Homo sapiens: one gene and its partners. The protein of the gene in region 2 interacts with the protein of the main gene of each other region in a biochemical or structural test. Each region holds a gene or a part of one and is shown on either strand. Other genes may lie near its edges.

Region 1 (4,320 bases), on a different chromosome or scaffold from region 2:
CCACTAAAAAATACAAATATAGCCAGGTGTGGTGGTGCACACCCATAATCCCAGCTACTCGGGAGGCTGAGGCAGGAGAACTGCATGAACCCAGGAGGTGGAGGCTGCAGTGAGCCAAGATCGCAGCACTGCACTCCAGCCTGGGTGACAGAGTGAGACTCCATCTCAAAAACAAACAAAGAAAAACAAACAGAATGAAAAATAAAACAAAGAAAACAAAACAAAGAAAAACAAAAAGAATGAGTAGAATATTTTATGAGTTCACATGGCACCCAAACTTAAACTCTAATTAAGAACCACTTTGAGAAACAGCACCAACTGGTGGTTAAAAAATCACTTACAGCACTTACTCTATGTACATGAACTGCATTACTTATGAAGCATTATAATCAAACTCAGGTTAAATAGCTTTTAGTAAATTTAAAGTGGACAGAAATGGAATTCAATGGCAAACAAAATCCTCAGACAGATCATTTGCTTAAATTCGACATAGCATGAACCCCACTTTTTGAATTTTGGCAATAAAACTAGTTTTATTTCATTAGCTTTACTCATATAAAAATGCTTCCCACTTTTCAGTAAATGGCACATATTTATAACTTCCAAGATGCCCTTATAAAGATTACCTAAAATAATACACAGAAACCCAAAACACATAAAAAACCTGCAAGTATTATCTATTATATACTAACTAAATATAAATCTTTATACATCTATTATACATTTTCAATTTTTCCTTAGTTATTATTCCAACAGATATAAACAATGCTGGGATCAACATACTTGCAAATGTGCCAACAAATATGCCAGAATATATAGGACATGGCATTTCAAAATTCCCACTCCAATTCTTAACTTAAGTCAACTTTAGTCATTTCTCCACTTTTTATTTCTATCATTAGAATAGCTGGGTGAATCTCAAACACAAGTGAATAAATAGTAGAAATTCAGTCAAGTAATATTAAGGCTAATGTAATTAAATTTTCATGTTGTACTTTTTTAAAGAAACAGAGCAGCTGCCAACTTTTCAGCTGAGAACAAATTTCTATAGTTCTTATTTTATAAATTATTTCTCAGCATTCTATATGGACTTTAACCAGACAAACCAATAATTTCTTTATTAAGAATCTTTTTTTAAAAAGTATGTGTATATGAAGGGCTTTAATAAACTTCCAAAAAAATTAAAAATAAAAAATTTAAAAAGACTTATCTTACTCATAATTTTGCATTTAAACAAGCAATTTCAAAACACAAAGTTTACAGCTACTTTCTAAGCCATTAATTTGACTAGCTTTTATAAATAATTGTTGTATTTGTAATATTATAAAATATACTGCTAGTCTCAAAAAATTTTATATACTTTAGTTCAACAAATATTCCTCCCCACCCCTCCAAAAAAGAACAATGTAATCACTTTAATTTTTGTTAGCAGTCAGAAAAATTTTTATTTAGGAAAAATATTCCCTCAATATTTATTAGATAATGAATCTTATTTAAATGAATAGTTTACTTTTACTTTTCTGTGTAGACCAATTTAAAAGTATGCCACTTTCCTTTCATAAGCAAACTGTATTTGTCTCATTCTACATGGCAGATCAAAAATTAATACTTCTTTCTGCCTTAAAAATTATGAGATTTTCCTCATTATGAATTAGTTGTTTTTATATGGATTACTGTTGTGCTGCTAAAAACAAATGTTAGTAAAAGTTATGGAGACATGGGAAAAAAACAAACTATAATACTAGTTAATAATGAAATACATTAAACATTGTTTAAATATTAAACAGTAAAATACTCCTATATTAAATAAATAATTAAAAATTGCATTTGTCAATGGGAATATAGGCCAATACCACCAATAAAAGGGATGGTCTAGTGCAAAGGGTGGCCACAAAACAACAACAACAACAAAAAATCAAAAACCACACATACATACAGAAAAGAAGGAAGAGGAAACACATTTAATACTGGTACTGTTTTCAATAACAAATTAAACCAGTGATTCTGAATCCTTCCTGCACATTCAAATTACCTGGAGAACTTTAAAAAAAATACTGATGACCAGGTCTTGTCTCAAATTACATGAAAATGGGAATCAAGATTCAGGCATGGATATTTTTAAAAACTCTCCAAATGATTCTAAAATGCAGTCAGGGTTGAGAGCAACTGATTGAAACCTACATATTTCTTACTGTTCCTTGACTGAGAAGAATGTCCTATAAATATAGAAATAGAACTTTTTCCTTTACAGGTTGGGCATACAAGGGTATCTCCAGTTAGCAGTAACTTATGGAGGGGTAAGTCAAGTTATTAATTTATACTTCATTTCCATTAAAATATCTACTTATACCTCTCTTCATTCCCTGTAATTCTGTACTCTCAAACTCCAAGACCAAGAAGAGTCGAACTACACTTTTATAATAAATTTGTTACACTGAAAATACATTATTCATTCATGCATGTAAGTATTTACTGAATGCCTACTATGTGCAAGGCACTGTGTTAAGTACTGCTATATAGGACCATGTCATGGGAGAATAAATGGGAGTGGCTGAAAATTTTTGTTTTTTAGAATAAACAGCTAAAAAATAATGGAATGAAATTAATTACATGGACCTAAATAAGAGACTAAATTGTCAAAGAGGAAAAGAAAAAGAGGTGCTTATACTAAGGGTCTGATTTTAAGATAGATGGTTATAGCCTATTTGTCCTTTTCCTAATGTTCCTTTACAGTATTTCCATAAGCCTTTGAATATACATAAGGCAAATTCAAAATAGAAAAATAAACCTCATTCAAAGTAGATGTTCCTAATTTTAACCATATTCTGTCTCAAGTAAAGTTCATAAATAAGTACAAATACCAAAAATCTTTATGGGAAGGTAGTTCATACTGACTTGTAGTAGTCTTGACAAGTAATCTTACATAAAAATATTACAGATTCTGGTCCTTGACTATTTCATCATGGAGAAAGTTTACACAACATGTAATTTATTTTGGAAATATATTTATATGCTAAGAAAGCCTAATGTAAACAAATTTGAGTTTTCTTTTATCTTTAAGGAAAGAAGACGCTAAAAAGGGAGGAAAATAGGGGTAGAATCTGTTCAAACCTTGTTAAGTATGCTAAAATCTAGTAATTTAAAATGCTGACTGTTCCCTTCTGAAGAGCCTTGTAAATATCATGTGAATAAATATCTTTTCTAGTTACTAGTGGTATGAACTATGTGATCACTTAAAAAATAATAACTTCTCATTTTTGTGACAGTGTTAAATTTCATTAAGAAGCTAGATAATGTCAGCTTAATACCTATGAAAGGCCTAAACGTTCACCAAAAATATGTTAACCTAGGAGAAAATTGCTGGGAATAAAAACAGAGAAAAAAATGACATAAGACTGTGATCAGCAAAAATTCCAATGGCAAAAACACTTTAGGAAAGTAAAGCTTCCTAGTTGCCTTTAAGGAAAAAAAAAAAACAAAGTGAAATCAAGGTTCAAGGCAAATGGTCACTTGATGTACCTTGGATGCAACATTTTGTCTGAAGTAGAGAAATAGTAAAATATTTCACTAAGTTAAAATATAGTTTTTATATTTTATACCATATTGAATACAGACATAAAAATACCAGTGTTTTTCTCTTGTTTCTTTTCAGACAATTAAGCAAATGTTTTCTTTGGTGCCTGGGAGTTTATCAATATTTAGGGATAATGGAAGATAAGAACTCCAAGACTGACAAGCCTAAAATAGAAGATTCAAAATCCTATACCATAAAAATTACAATCAAAAGTGGACTAAAGAGAAAAGGAGCTTAAAGTTATACTGCAATAGGGCTGATACATATTCTTCCCCCAAATCATACTCTGGCTCCCAAAATAAAAAATACTACAGCCTATTGTGGTTTTAATCTGTGTTTTGAGATTTTTTTCAAATGGAAAGATATTACAGATAGAAACACATCATTCTAGGTTTCAAAATCACCAAAGTCAGTGAGAAGAATGTACATTCATTTAAATGTAATCATTTGTAAATAAAGAAATCTTGAAAAGGCTGAACAGTTCAATCAAATTGAAGAATTGATCTAGATTTTTCATTATTCTTTTTAAATAATGAGTAAGTGTAGATATAGTGTACATACAAGTTGACATTCTGATTCATTCAAAATAGTCACATCCCTTTGCTTGGTTTTGGATGTTCCAGAGACTAAAATTTAATACCATTCATAACATAGTATTTTCAGTAAAAAGAATTATAGAGCAATGAAAAATCAGAAGATGGCTCAGAGAGCCTTATAATCTCTAAATATACACACATTTATAACCT
Region 2 (7,024 bases):
AAAATCAGTTAATGAGACAAAAGGAAACGAAAGGTCAATAAATCAAGAGAAAGCAAAAAGGGCATTAAATTTTCACTGAAACTGGCAGGTTTTTATAAGGCTTCAGCTGACATAAAGAATGTGTGATGTGAACCCTCAGTACAGCTGCCAAGAATGACAGGTTTATAAGAACCAAACTGACTTCAAGTTGTTTCTCCTGTAATAACAGTAAATTTTGCTGCTATCGAAGTCAAGAATTGATTAAAATACAGGAATCTGTCACTATGTAACCTCTTTAGATATTCGAATACCAGTTTGCAGTCTAGAGGATTTAGTGAAATCATAAAGTGTCTACTCTCAGATTCGAGTCCATACTGATAGCATATTTCAAGAGTACTACATATTTCTCGCACTAAAATTCTTGGGAGGCCATAAAGGGTTTTGTCTGTCCTGTGTACAACTGACCAATAAGGGAAGGGAAGCAGTCTAGGCTTTAAATAGCTTCTGAGTGTCAGGGAAGGATAGCTCTCCTCAACTAGAACAATGAAATATCCTTTAAGGGAAAGGTAGAATGCCTCAGAGAGTTCAAAATAAAAGAATCCATTCTAACATGAAACTTACCAAGATGAGGAAGAAGTTATTAAAATCTTTCCTGTAAGATCAAAAGGTACTTTTCCTGTAAGTTCCTTCAACCTATCCTGGTAACTTGAAGCATTTTATTAGCAAAAATAAAAGGGGCAAACATTATCAAGCATTCCAAGCTTATCAGCTTTCCGTATAGGGCAAATCACTGGGAAGAACAGTAAATGTCATCACTCTGCAGGTGGCCAGGAATCGGAGTACTCCAGCCAGCCACAGCCACTGGAGTTCCAAGCCTTCCCAAAATAGCTATGACTTACATACAAATGCTCATCAAGTAGCTCACACACAGTCTCAAACGGAGAATGCTGAAATAGGGTCACTACTCAAACTGCGGCAGAGGTAAATGAAGATGCCACTGATTAATAGGCACATGGTCTTAAATGACTGAGCCACGACAAATTTAAATATGACTTCTCTCTCCCTTAAAATAGTCTCTTCTCTAAATCAATATGATAGTCTCCAAACTAAAATTTTCCCATGTTTTTAAATCACTGTGCTAAAAACAAATAGAACTGACCTCTGAAGCCAGAGAAAAATCTTGACACATTTCAATAGGCACTTGTGAACATCTAACAATATTTCCATTAGAAGTCAGTGCATGATACTTTCGTTTCGGAGCCCAGGACCTGGAAGTATCTTTTTCTACATGAGTTTTAAAAAGCGCATCCAGGCTGGGCGCCCTGGTTCACGCCTGTAATCCCAGCACTTTGGGAGGCCGAGGCGGGCGGATCATGAGGTCAAGAGACCGAGACCATCCTGGCCAACACAGTGAAATCCCATCTCTACTAAAAATACAAAAATTAGCTGGGCGTGGTGGCACGCGCCTGTAGTCCCAGCTACTCGGGAGGCTGAGGCAGGAGAATCGCTTGAACCCGGGAGACGGAAGTTGCAGTGAGCCGAGATCGCGCCACTGCACCCCAGCCTGGGCGACAAAGTGAGACTCCGTCTGGAAAAAAAAAAAAAAAAAAAGTGCGTCCAGACTGGGCGCGGTGGCTCACGCCTGTAATCCCAGCACTCTGGAAGGCCGAGGCGGGCGAATCACCTTAAGTCGGGAGTTTGAGACCAGCCTGACCAATATGGTGAAACCCCGACTCTACTAAAAATACAAAAATTAGCCGGGCCGGTGGCAAGCACCTGTAATACCAGCTACTCAGGAGGGTGAGGCGGAGGATGCAGTGAGCCGACATCGCGCCACAGCACTCCAGCCTAGGCAACAGAGGGAGACTCTGTCGAAAAAAAAAAAAAAAAAAAAAAAAAAGTGTCTCCATGCTAAATACTACTGGCCTTCCAGACAAAAGAGTAAAAAGGTATAAAAGGATTCTCACCTGAGGGTATCTGTCTGCCAGCTTTGTACGACAAATATAGTTTCTCATCTCCAAACTCGTATTTGAACAACTGGCACAGATTTCCCGTTTTCTCTTGAAAAAGTGCAGTACTTGAGGGGTGAGGAGGTGGTGTTAAGTTATAACATTCCGAAGTAACACTAGAAGACATGCTCAAATTGCCCTCTTCCCAAGTTTCTTCATACAGACATTAGCTTTTCTCTCAAACCAGGGTTCTTTCACTCTCACCAGATTCTTAGATCAGAAGTCCTTATATTGATTTCAATCTTCTTAGACATTGGGAACAGGAGATCATCATCAGTAGACTTTCTATTCATCACGCAGCTCCTCCCCCTCCTTAAAAATCTAGAGCGATGAAGGCAATAATTGGGGAGGCTGCGCTGTTTTGTTTTTAAAGCCGGGTTGGGAGGGAGGGAAGTGGTGGTAACTGGGACCCCTGGTCTTATAGAAGACGGTGATTAATTCCGGACTTTAAGTGAGATAACTTCGGTCTGCTTTAACCTTTTAAAAACGCCGCCATAAAACTGATTTAAAAGTCAAAGCAAAACAAAACCAACCAACGCTGCCGCTTTCGGAAGTTTCTCACCCCGGACGGGGCCCAGGAGGGCTCACCTTACTGATCCCTGCGGCGGAGAACCCCACGTCCAGCCCTTTATATTTGGTTTTCCAAAATCTGGAAATCCCCCTACAACTTCAGCTCGCCCACGGACGCGAAGATGCAGTCCTCAATCTCCGCGGCCCGAGCCCCGCAGAGCCCTTGGCCTTCTCACCCACGCTGGCGGGCGCACCCCCTGTCCCGCCCGGCCGGGGCGCCCTCCGCAGCCCGCAACCCGCAGCCCTGCAGGCCCCGCACGCTCCCCTCAGGGCCTGGAGCCCGCCCCCAGCTCCCGCTCGCCGCCGCGGAGCCCACCGAGCCGTGGCCGTCTGCCGCGCCGGCCGCGTCGTCCTGCTGCAGCTCCGCAGTCATGGCCGAGGCGCCCAGCCGCGGGTCACCGGTCTCCCGCCGCAGCCGCCGCCGGCCCAGCCTCTCAGGACTAGGCCCCGCCCCCGCCCTCCACCCCGCTCCGTCCCGCCCCCGCCCGCAGCGCGCGCCGGAGGCTTGGCCCACATGCCCCGCCCCCGGCATGCGCGCGCACGCAAGGCGCGCGGCCCGGGGCCGAACAGTTCTGCGTGCTCCCGCGCACGCCCGGCTGACCAGACGTCGGTCACGTGATCCCGGCCCCGCCTGTCGCTGTTGGTCAGCTTCACAGCCGGTGGAGGCTGCGGGCCGCGCTGCCAGTGTCCGGGAACTGGGTTTGCGAATCCTGGGAGCCGCGTTCCTGAGTCTTCTCCGCTCTCTGCCCTCAAAACCTCATTTGTAGGACTGACCTCCGGCTCCACCCTCCCCACGGGCGAGTTAAAACTGTTCCCCCGCCGTGGGAAACTGCCGAATGACCGTGGAATAAAGGATTTCCCATCAGGCTTTGTAGCCATTTCCAACTCCAATGACATGAAGAAGTGTTCACCATCTTTAAGGAGAGAAGGAGGATGAATGCAGTCGCTTGTCTAAAGCTAACCAAACGGACCAAAGCCTCCGTTCATGGGTGTCCCGCTTGGTGCCCTTAACCCTGATGCTCTTAACCTGGGCATGATAAGGAAAATTGCAGTTTTTCCATTTTCGATTTTCAGAAGTTCAAACTAAAATTTTGTGTTACTTTGTTACGTTTGAGCCAGATATTTACGATTTCATGTTAAAAGACCAGGTGCTCCTATTGAATTGTTTTTTGTTTGGTTGGTTTCGGTTTGTTTTTTTTTTTTTCTTTTTTTTTGAGACGGAGTCTCACTCTGTCCCCTCAAGCTGGAGTGCAGCCGCACGGTCTCGGCTCACTGCAACTTCCGCCTCCTGGGTTCAAGCGATTCTCCTGAGTAGCTGGGATTACAGGCACGCTGTACCACACCCAGGGTTTCACCATGTTGCCCAGGCTGGCCTCGAATTCCTGACCTCAGGTGATCCGCCCGTCTCGGCCTTCCATAATGCTGGGATTATAGGCGTGAGCCACCGCGCCAGGCCTGAATTGTATTTTCAACAACTGTGTGGGAATTGTGATTACTGAACCATGTTTCACATTTAAGATACAAATGTGTTATGATGGCAAACCCACTTGACAGGCTGCTGGGTGTCCCAAATCTGCGTAGAGGCTGAGTGTGGAAGCGCGTCTTTTAAGAGTAGCACCTACACCCTTGCCCTGGTCTGGTCTGACTCTCAAGCTACACTTTTAAGTGTGAATTTAACATGGACGGTGGCCTTTCCTATACTCCTGGCATTGTTGTCGCTGGGATTGTTATGTTTCACCTGCAGGCCTCCCTAGTCTGCATGCGGGCGCAGTTTTTGACAAAAGGAAACAGGTACAGGTCAGGTGCAGCTCCCAGGAGAGGCCAGATTACTCTCTGAGGCCTGAACTAGGACTCCTGCAACTTCCACCACCTGGAGATACAGGGATCCGCTTCCCCTGGCAGATTAACTGGCAGATTGGCATGGCTGCGGTGATACTAACTTGGAATCTTCCACATTCAACAGGCTGACTGTGTTTGTGTCTGCGAGTAGTAGGACATTTTATGTATGTGGCTCTGCCATTTTTCCTTTCCTCATGAGTGACTGTGTTTATGGCCTCAACCTGGGTGTCACTGTAGAACAGGTTGATTTCAGGTTGATGCTGGTTTTCTTTTTTTTTTTTTTTTTTTTTGAGACAGGGTCTCACTCTGTCACCCAGACTGAAATACAGTAGTGAGATCATGGCTCACTGCAGCCTTGAATTCCTGGGCTCAAGCAGTCCAACTGCCTCAGCCTCTGAAGCAGCAGGGACTTCATGCATGTGCCATGCCCAACTAATTTTTGTGTCTTTTTTATGGAGATGGGATCTCACTGTGTTGCCCAGGATGGTCTCAAACTTCTGGTCTCAAGCAATCCTCCTGCCTTGGCCTCCCAAAATTTGGGGATTACAGACATGAGTCACCACGCCCAGCCCACATTGATTTCTGAGTCTAGCTTATTTACAGCATTGCCTATTTCTACACTGCTAGAATGCTTTATTTACCATGTCTCTGGAGCAACCCTTATTTGTCTTTACACATTCATTTTAGGAAATTGCATGTTTATTGTGTGTAAGTGCTGTCAAAACCTATAATCCTTTGTATTAGTCTGTTCTCACACTGCCATAAAGAATTACCTGAGCCTGGGTAAGTTATGAAGAAAAGAGGTTTGACTCAGGGGCATAACAGGAAGCAAGACTGGGAGGCCTCAGGAAACGTACAATCGTGGTGGAAGGCAAAGGGGAAGCAGGCATGTCTCACCATGGCAGAGTAGGAGAGATAGAACAAAAGAAGTGTCCCCCCCGACCCCCCGCACACACACACACACAAAGATCTCATAAGAACTCACTATCATGAGAAATGCATGGGGGAAATCCACCCCATAATCTAATCATGTCCCACCAGGTCCCTCCCCTGGCAAGTGGGAATACAATTCGACATGAGATTTGGGTGGGGACCCAGAGCCAAACCATATTACCCTTATTCATTAAAATTTTCTTTTTTTTTTTTTTTTTTTGAGACGGGGTATCGTTCTGTCGCCCAGGCTGGAGTGCAGTGGTGTGATCTCAGCTCCCTGAAACCTCTGCCTCCCGGGTTCAAGCAGCTCTCCTGCCTCAGACTCCCGAGGGACTACAGGCGCCTCAGACTCCCCTGGGACTAAGGCATGCACCACCACGCCTGGCTAATTTTTAGTAGAGACAGGGTTTCACCATGTTGGCCAGGCTGGTCTCCAACTCTTAACCTTGTGATCCACCTGCCTCTGCCTCCCAAAGTGCTGGGATTACAGGCATGAGCCACCGTGCCCAACCTTCATTAAAATTTTCTTAAAAGACCAGCAGACCTAGGCCAATCACAGGTTCATGCCTGTAATCCCAGCAGTTTAGGAGGCTGAGGTGGGCAGATCACATGAGCTCAGGAGTTGGAGACTACCCTGGGCAATGTGGCAAAACTCCATCTATACAGGAAATACCAAAAAAAAAAAAAAAGTATTAGTCCGTTTTCACGCTGCTGATGAAGACATATCCAAGACTGGGCAATTTACAGAAGAAAGAGGTTTAATTGGACTCACAGTTCCACATGGCTGGGGAGGCCTCAGAATCATGGCGGGAGGTGAAAGGCTCTTCTTACATGGCAGCAGCAAGAGAAAATGAGGAAGAAGCAAAAGTGGAAACCTCTGATAAACCCGTTGGATCTCATGAGACTTATTCACAATCACAAAAATAGCACGGGAAGACCGGCCCTCATGATTCAATTACCTCCCCATGCGTACCACCCACAAACACGTGGGAATTCTGGGAGATAAAATTCAAGTTGAGATTTGGGTGAGGGCACGGCCAAACCATATCATTCCACCTCTGGCCCCTCAAAATCTCAGGTCCTCACATTTCAAAAGCAATCATGCCTTCCCAACAGCCTCTCAAAGTCTTAACTCATTTCAGCATTAACCCAAAAGTCCGCAGTCCAAAGTCTCATCTGAGACAAGGCAAGTCCTTTCTGCCTATGAACCTGTAAAATTAAAAGCAAGCTAGTTATTTCCTAGATACAATGGGGGTACAGGTATTGGGTAAATACAGCAGTTCCCAATGGGAGAAATTGGCCAAAACAAAGGGGTTACAAGGCCCAAGGAAGTCCAAAATCCAGCGAGGCCGTCAAATTGTAAAGCTCTAAAATGATCTCCTTTGACTCCAGCTCTCACATCCAGGTCACACTGATGCAAAAGGTGGGTTCCCATGGTCTTGGGCAGCTCTGCCCCTGTGGCTTTGCAGGGTACAGTCTCCCTCTTGGCTGCTTTCATGGGCTGGCATTGAGTGTCTGCAGCTTTTCCGGGCACACAGTGCAAGCTGTCGGTGGACCCACCATTCTGGGCTCTGGAGGACAGTGACCCTCTTCTCACAGCTCCACTAGGCAGTGCCCCATTAGGGACTCTGTGTGGGGGCTCCGACCCCACATTTCCCTTCCATGCTGCCCTAGTAGAGGTTCTCCATGAGGGC
Region 3 (7,035 bases), on a different chromosome or scaffold from region 2:
CCAGTAGCTGGGACCACAGGCATGTGCCACTACAGCCAGTTGGTTTTTTTTTTTAAGTTTTCTTTTGTAGAGTTGGGGTCTCACTATGTTGACTGGGCTGGTTTTGAACTTCTAGCCTCAAATGATCCTCCCCGCTTGTCCTCCCAAAGTGCTGGAATTACAGGCATGAGCCACTGTGTTAGGCCCATAATTCTTAATTATCTTAAGGATTCTGCCTGAGCTTTGGCAGAGCTAGGATTCTGTTTACATGCTAGTTTGAGAAATACTTGCCTTATTGGATGTGTTTAAACTGTTTTTTTTTTTTGTTTTCTTATAGACAGTTCAAGAAGAAGAAAGAGAGATTTACAGACAGCTGCTACAGATGGTCACAGGGAAACAGTTTACTATAGCCAAACCCACCACACATTTTCCTTTACACCTGTGAGTCACAGAAGCATATTTCAGATGAATTTAATTCTACAATTTATTACTTGATATTGAAACAATATTCTTCTCTTGCTAGGTCTCGATGTCTTAGTTCCAGTAAAAATACTTTGAAAGACTCACTGTTTAAAAATGGAAACTCTTGTGCATCTCAGATCATTGGCTCTGATACTTCATCATCTGGATCTGCCAGCATTTTAACTAACCAGGAACAGCTGTCCCACAGTGTATATTCCCTATCTTCTTATACCCCAGATGTTGCATTTGGATCCAAAGATTCTGGTACTCTTCATCATCCCCATCATCACCACTCTGTTCCACATCAGCCAGATAACTTAGCAGCTTCAAATACACAATCTGAAGGTAAACATGGTATCATATAACTACATTTTTAGTCCTAATAGCCAATTAACTGTTCATTAGCTCATTACAGGCAACATTGTAATATACATATAAATAAATGAGCATACCGAATCTGAAAATATGAAGTCCGAAATGTTCCAAAATCTGAAACTTTTTGAATACCAACATGATACTCAGGAAATGCTCAGTGGAGCATTTGGGATTTTGGATGTTTGGATTTGGGATGCTCAAATTGTATAATGCAAATATTCAAAAGTCCAAAAAATCCAAAATTTGAAACTCCTGGTCCCAACCATTTTGGATAAGGGATACTGAACTTGTAAGACATGTACTTACATACTTTAAATACATATGATTCAGTTAACCATGCTGTGAGTAAACTAAATCCACAAATAGGATATTCTTTTTTTCTTACCTCAAGATGCAAATGATTTGATACATTTTATTTAAACAACTTCCTAAGTACAGGCTAGAGTCAAAGTATATATACTCAGCCCAATTGCTTCAGCACTTTCTCTGTTTCTATGACTTTACAGTGGTAAGTAAGAATTCTGAAGTTGTAGGAGTTTTGAAACATCAGATAAATACTGAAGCTTAAGTACTTAGGTTTGTGCGTTTTAGAATGATTGTCAGCATTGGAAGCAAAAAGTTTTCTACGTAACTTTCAACTAACTGAAATATTCACTCTCTTTGCATTCCAGTTAATTAAGGTTTTGTCGTGATAGGTTTGTTTCCTTAATTTCCCCCTTCTTTAGGTATGTATTATGTATCAATTTATGGTATGTACTTAGGTATGCAACTTAAAACAAGTTATAGGTTAAATGGTTAAACATCAGGGATTTTTTGATAGATGGAGCACTAGTCTTTCCCCTCCTTTCTCAGGTTGTTTGAGGTTTTTTTTTTAATCTATTTGTACTTTGTGAAAATTCTCACTCAGGATTAAACTTTTTGGTAGCATCATTGTATAGCTACACATATCCATGAAGACTCTTGTTATATTTTGTGAGGTGATGTACTGAGAACTGTAAAGGAAAAAAAAAAGCCAAAAAACCCAAACTCCTTTAACCTCAGAAACATACATTGTGTTGCAGATACTTAGATACAACTAAGTTGAAACAAATATACTACATTGCACTGTTTAATTACTTTCCTTGTACCATGTAATAAATACTCTGAGGTTCTAATGACAGCACTTTAGAAGAACATGATTCCTGCCTTTGAGTAGTATTCAACAGAGAAAATACATAATAGAATGATAAAATTTGTACTTTTTAGACACCTCCTGGGGTGCTATTTCCTTCCCTGTCCCCCTTCCCTCCTTCTTCCAGTTTCTTTCCCTCTTCCATTCCCCCACCCCTTCTTTCACCTAATTCAGTCGCATTGTAGATCATGAACTACAGTAGTTCCCCCTTATCTGTGGGGGGAGGATATGTTCCAAGACCCGCCCCCCACCAGTGGATGCTTGAAACCATGGAGAGTATACTATATATACCATACCCTATATACATCATGTTTTTTCCTATACATACATACTAATGATTATAAATTAGGTGCAGTAAGAGATCAACAATAATAACTAATAACAAAAATTATAACAATATACTGTAATGAAGATGTTACTTTTTTCTTATTAAATCAAAAACTTTAACCTTTTCACTTAAAGGAAGTAGTGTTTTTTGTTTTTGTTTTTGTTTTTGTTTGTTTTTGAGACTGAGTGTCACTCTGTTGCTCAGGCTGGAGTACAGTGGGACCATCTTGGTTCACTGCAACCTCGCATGTCCTGGGTTCAAGCGATTCTGCTGCCTCAGCCTCCTGAGTAGCTGGGATTACAGGTGTGAGCCATTATGCCCAGCTAATTTTTGTATTCTTAGCAGAGACAGGTTTCACCATGTTGGCCAGGCTGGGGAAGCACTTTTTACGGCTTCTCTTTGGCATACCTGAATTGCCAACATCATTACTTTTGCCTTTTGGGGACATTATTAAGTAAGGGTTACTGAACACAAGCACTGCTATACTGAGACAGTCAATTGGATGACTGAGGTGACTACTAAATGACAGGTGGTGCATACAACATGGATATGCTGGACAAAGGGATGATTTCATGCCTGAAATAGAGCTGGATAGAGATTTTTATCACATTACTTGGAATGGCATGCAATTTAAAATTTACTAATTATTTCTGGAATTTTCCATTTAATATATTTGGACCGCAGTTAACTATGCGTAACTGAAACCATAGAAACCAAAATTGCAGATAGAGGACTACCATGAAGACTTTTAAGGAATCCTGCCATGTTCTTGTTCTCCTGAAACAGACAGGAAGCACAGGGAGCAAGTGCAGCCTAGGAGGAAATTCTGAAGGGCAAATATGTTTGTTATTTCCCAGGGATTTTCTTATTTGTGAAGCAAATTCTTCACTAAGACCTATTTCTGTTCTCAGTGACAATGGACTTGCCTCTCTCTCTCTCCCATCTAACCTTTGTTCTTATGTTATTTTTGTGGAAATAAAATATAGCAAAGTATGGGAACTTAAACTAAGATATCTAGAAAGTATAACTTTGTGGAGTTTTATTACTAATGAAATGCTCTTGTGTTTCTTTAGGATCAGACTCTGTGATTTTACTGAAAGTGAAAGATTCCCAGACTCCAACTCCCAGGTAAACTTTGGAAAAAGCTTGTTCTTTATTAATTAATTAATATATCTTTTTGAGACGGAGTCTCGCTCTGTTGCCCAGGCTGGAGTGTAGTGGCGCGATCTTGGTTCACTGCAACCTCCACCTCCCTGGTTCAAGCAATTCTTCTGCCTCAGCCTCCCGAGTAGCTAGGATTACAGGCGCCCGCCACCACGCCCAGCTAATTTTTGTATTTTTAGTAGAGATGGGGTTTTGCTGTGTTGGCCAGGCTGGTCTCGAACTCCTGACCTCAAGTGATCCACCTGCCTCGGCCTCCCAAAGTGCTGGGATTACAGGCGTGAGCCACCATGCCTGGCCTAAAAGTTTCTTCTTAACATATTGTTTTCCCTTTCTTTAATCACAGCTTTTTCACTAAAAGTTACATAATGTAAAACTACCTCAATTCAGACCTTTCTCACGTATTACTTGAATTATTTTAGTGGCTTTATAATTGTTCTTCCTTCAGCCTCTATTTTGTTCTTCATTCCGTCTTCCACCATACCATGTTCTTGAAACAATTTTTCTGCCTTGCTCTTTTTTCATTTGTTTTTGTTTTTGTTTTTGTTTTGAGACAGGGTCTTGCTCTGTCACCCAGGCAAGAGTGCAGTGGCACAATCATGGCTCACTGGAGCTTTGAACTCCTGGGCTCAAGTGATCCTCTTGCCTCAGCTGGGACCACATATGCATGCCACCATACTTGGCTAACTTTTAAATTTTTCTTTTGTAGAGACGGGATCTTGCTATGTTGACCAGGCTGGTTTTGTACTCCTAGCCTCAAGCGATCCTCCTAACTTGGCCTTCCAAAGTGCTGGGATCGTAGGTGTGAGCCACTGCACCCGGCCTGCTGTGTTCTTTAGTCCATCTTCCATGCTGCAATCAGAGTGATCTTTCAGAATTCATGTCTGATCATTCATTAAAGGGGTTTAATGATTATTTGTTAACCTCCTTCAAGGGTGGTTTATCAGACATTGAATTAAGCTCAGGCTCCTTACTATGGTATACAAAGCACTTCTTTCACAAGCCTCACTTTCTCACTTTTAACAAATATTTACTGAGAGCCTACTGTGTGCCAGGTACTAGTATAAATATTGAGGATAATAGGGAACAATGTGAAGTCCCTATTCTCAAGGAGCTTGCATTCTACTTGAGGGGAAGGATGAAGGACAATGTGAAGTCCCTATGCTCAAGGAGCTTGCATTCTACTTGAGGGGAAGGATAAACAAATGTATATGCCTTGTGATAAGTGCTATGAAGAAAATTGAAGCAGGGTAATATATAGAGTAGGATTGGGAGGATACTATTTGTATAGGGTGGTCATGGAAAGTCTCTGATAAAGTGACTTGAGCAGAGACATGATGGAGGTAAGAGGGAGCCATATGGAAATATGGGACTCTTTCATGTGTTTTTATAAGCTGGACTATTTTCAGTTTGCAAATACAATAAGCATTTCTTACCTTCACATTCAGTGTTCTTTTTGCCTGGAATGTCCTCCGTACCTCAACTTTGTCTGTCAGTAGTGTTTTATCTTTTAGGTCTCAACTCACATGTGAACTTCTGCATGAAACTTTACTTATCTGGAGGTATCAAATACTTCTTCCTCTGTAATACAGTAATAGTAATCCATAGTAACCATTACTATGATTGCTATGCCTTTGCCATATATGGCTTTGGGAATTCAATTGCTAGGATGAGAATAATATCAGTTTTCCGTTGAGAAGATTAAGAGTAATGAAATATTCTTTCTCATCTCAGTTCCCCTACTTCTTTGCAGCTCCCCATATGTTCTAAGCTTTAAATATTTCTTAAAATTCTCTATTTGTTAAGTCTTTTGGGGAGACTTCATAGTTTGGATTCTTTATTTCTTACATCTTTTTTGGAGTCAGATCTGCCTTCTGATCTTGGGTTGGAAAAGGCTTCATGTAGCTTTGGACAAGTTACTCTTATGAACCTCAGTTTCCTTATCAATAAAATGCCAGTATTGATACCTTACACTTAATTGTGAAGATTAACTTACAGATAAAACACTTATTTTTATAAGTGCTTCACATGAAATGCCACAAGATGCATGCAACTTTCTTGGGAAGAAGTTGATCTCTCAGGTAAAGAGTTGATCTCAGTTCCTTAATGGTTCTTTACTAAGACTGCCTTTCCTTTACGGAGGATTTCCCCTAGTGATGACTAAAGAATGAGATGGCAGGAGAAATGGTCTGTTGGGTAAGGCTGTTTGAGCAATGCTCTTTGTCAAAGTTGGTGCCTACTCTGCTGAGGCTTGGTTTATTGGCTCTCTACTCTTAATTCTCCACTACTGCCTCTCAGTTAAGTTCCAGTAATGAAGATCTGCTTTTATTTCCCAGAATATGCTATGCTGTGTCATACCTCTTTGCCTTTATACATTCTGATCCTTCTGTCTGGATGTCCCTTTCTCTCTCTGTCTACTTGGTAAGCTCTTATTTTGCTTCCTTTTCTTTCTTTCTTTTTTTTTTTTTTTTTTTTTTTTTTGTGACAGAGTCTTGCTCTATCATCCAGGCTGGAGTGCAGTGGCACAATCTCTGCTCACTGCAACCTCCGCCTCCCGGGTTCAAGTGATTCTCGTGCCTTACCCTCCAGGGTAGCTGGGATTACAGGCATATGCCACCACACCCAGCTAATTTTTGTATTTTTAGTGGAGATTGGGTTTCACCATGTTGGCCAAGCTGGTCTCGAACTCCTGACCTCCGGTGTTCCACCCACCTCAGCCTCCCAAAGTGCTGGGATTACAGGCATGAGCCACTGTGCCTGGCCTTAATTTTGCTTTTCAAAATCTCATCCAGGTGTTATTTTTTTTTTCTCAGAAGATTTCTTTGACTTTGCCAGATAATGTTAGTTTTTCCCTCCATCCTTCTACCTTGTTTGTTACTAATACTTTTGTATCTGTCACCCATTGCTGGTCATAGTGCTTGGCATATGATGGGTGCTCAGTAAATAAATCTTTGTTAAACAAATGAATTTCCTAGATAGCCTGAAGTGCTCTCTTGAGTAGCCCAAGTACTTATTCCTCCCCCGCTTTTTTTTAATGCTTTCATCTATTGAAAGGCACAGTCGAAAGAACACAGTCTTTGGAATTGGACAGATAAGATTTCTAATCCTAGCCTTTCAAGAGAAATTATCTTTTTGAACCTCCTTTTTCATTTCTGTACAGTATGAGTAATAATTCTTTTTTATATATTATGTTGAGGTTTAAATAGTATAGGGATTTTCATTAGGCTTAACTAATACATAAAACATCTAGAGCAGAGTTTTACATGTAGAGCACTAAGTATGTGCTCAAAAACATTTGCAGTTATTATTACTATATGCCTCAATTATATGAGAAATAATGCATCTCTTTGGAAAAGCAGATTTTCCCTGCATTTTGTTTTCCGGAGCCAGTGGATACCTTGATCCATTGAAGAAAACTGCTTGTCCCTACATTACTTGTTTATTCAAGAAATACTATATGGCTGGGCATGGTGGCTCATGCCTGTAATCCTAGCACTTTGGGAAGGCCAAGGTGGATGGATCACCGGAGGTCATGAGTTCGAGACCAGCCTGGCCAACA

What was found.
Region 1: the proteins of USP28 (region 2) and CDC73 form a complex in vitro, tested with the Homo sapiens proteins (one study listed by BioGRID).
Region 3: the proteins of USP28 (region 2) and SENP1 form a complex in vitro, tested with the Homo sapiens proteins (one study listed by BioGRID).

Annotation. Positions count from the first base shown.
Region 1 is NC_000001.11:193,251,001-193,255,320, reverse strand, and holds the end of CDC73 (parafibromin), read right to left. Parts: 3' UTR 506-4,320; downstream 1-505.
Region 2 is NC_000011.10:113,872,571-113,879,594, forward strand, and holds the start of USP28 (ubiquitin carboxyl-terminal hydrolase 28), read right to left. Parts: upstream 3,003-7,024; 5' UTR 2,932-3,002; coding exon 2,875-2,931; intron 2,310-2,874; exon of another isoform or gene 1,995-2,309; coding exon of another isoform or gene 1,947-1,994; intron 1-1,946. UniProt on the Homo sapiens protein: Deubiquitinase involved in DNA damage response checkpoint and MYC proto-oncogene stability. Involved in DNA damage induced apoptosis by specifically deubiquitinating proteins of the DNA damage pathway such as CLSPN.
Region 3 is NC_000012.12:48,068,075-48,075,109, reverse strand, and holds part of SENP1 (sentrin-specific protease 1), read left to right. Parts: intron 1-316; coding exon 317-420; intron 421-502; coding exon 503-786; intron 787-3,388; coding exon 3,389-3,443; intron 3,444-7,035. UniProt on the Homo sapiens protein: Protease that catalyzes two essential functions in the SUMO pathway.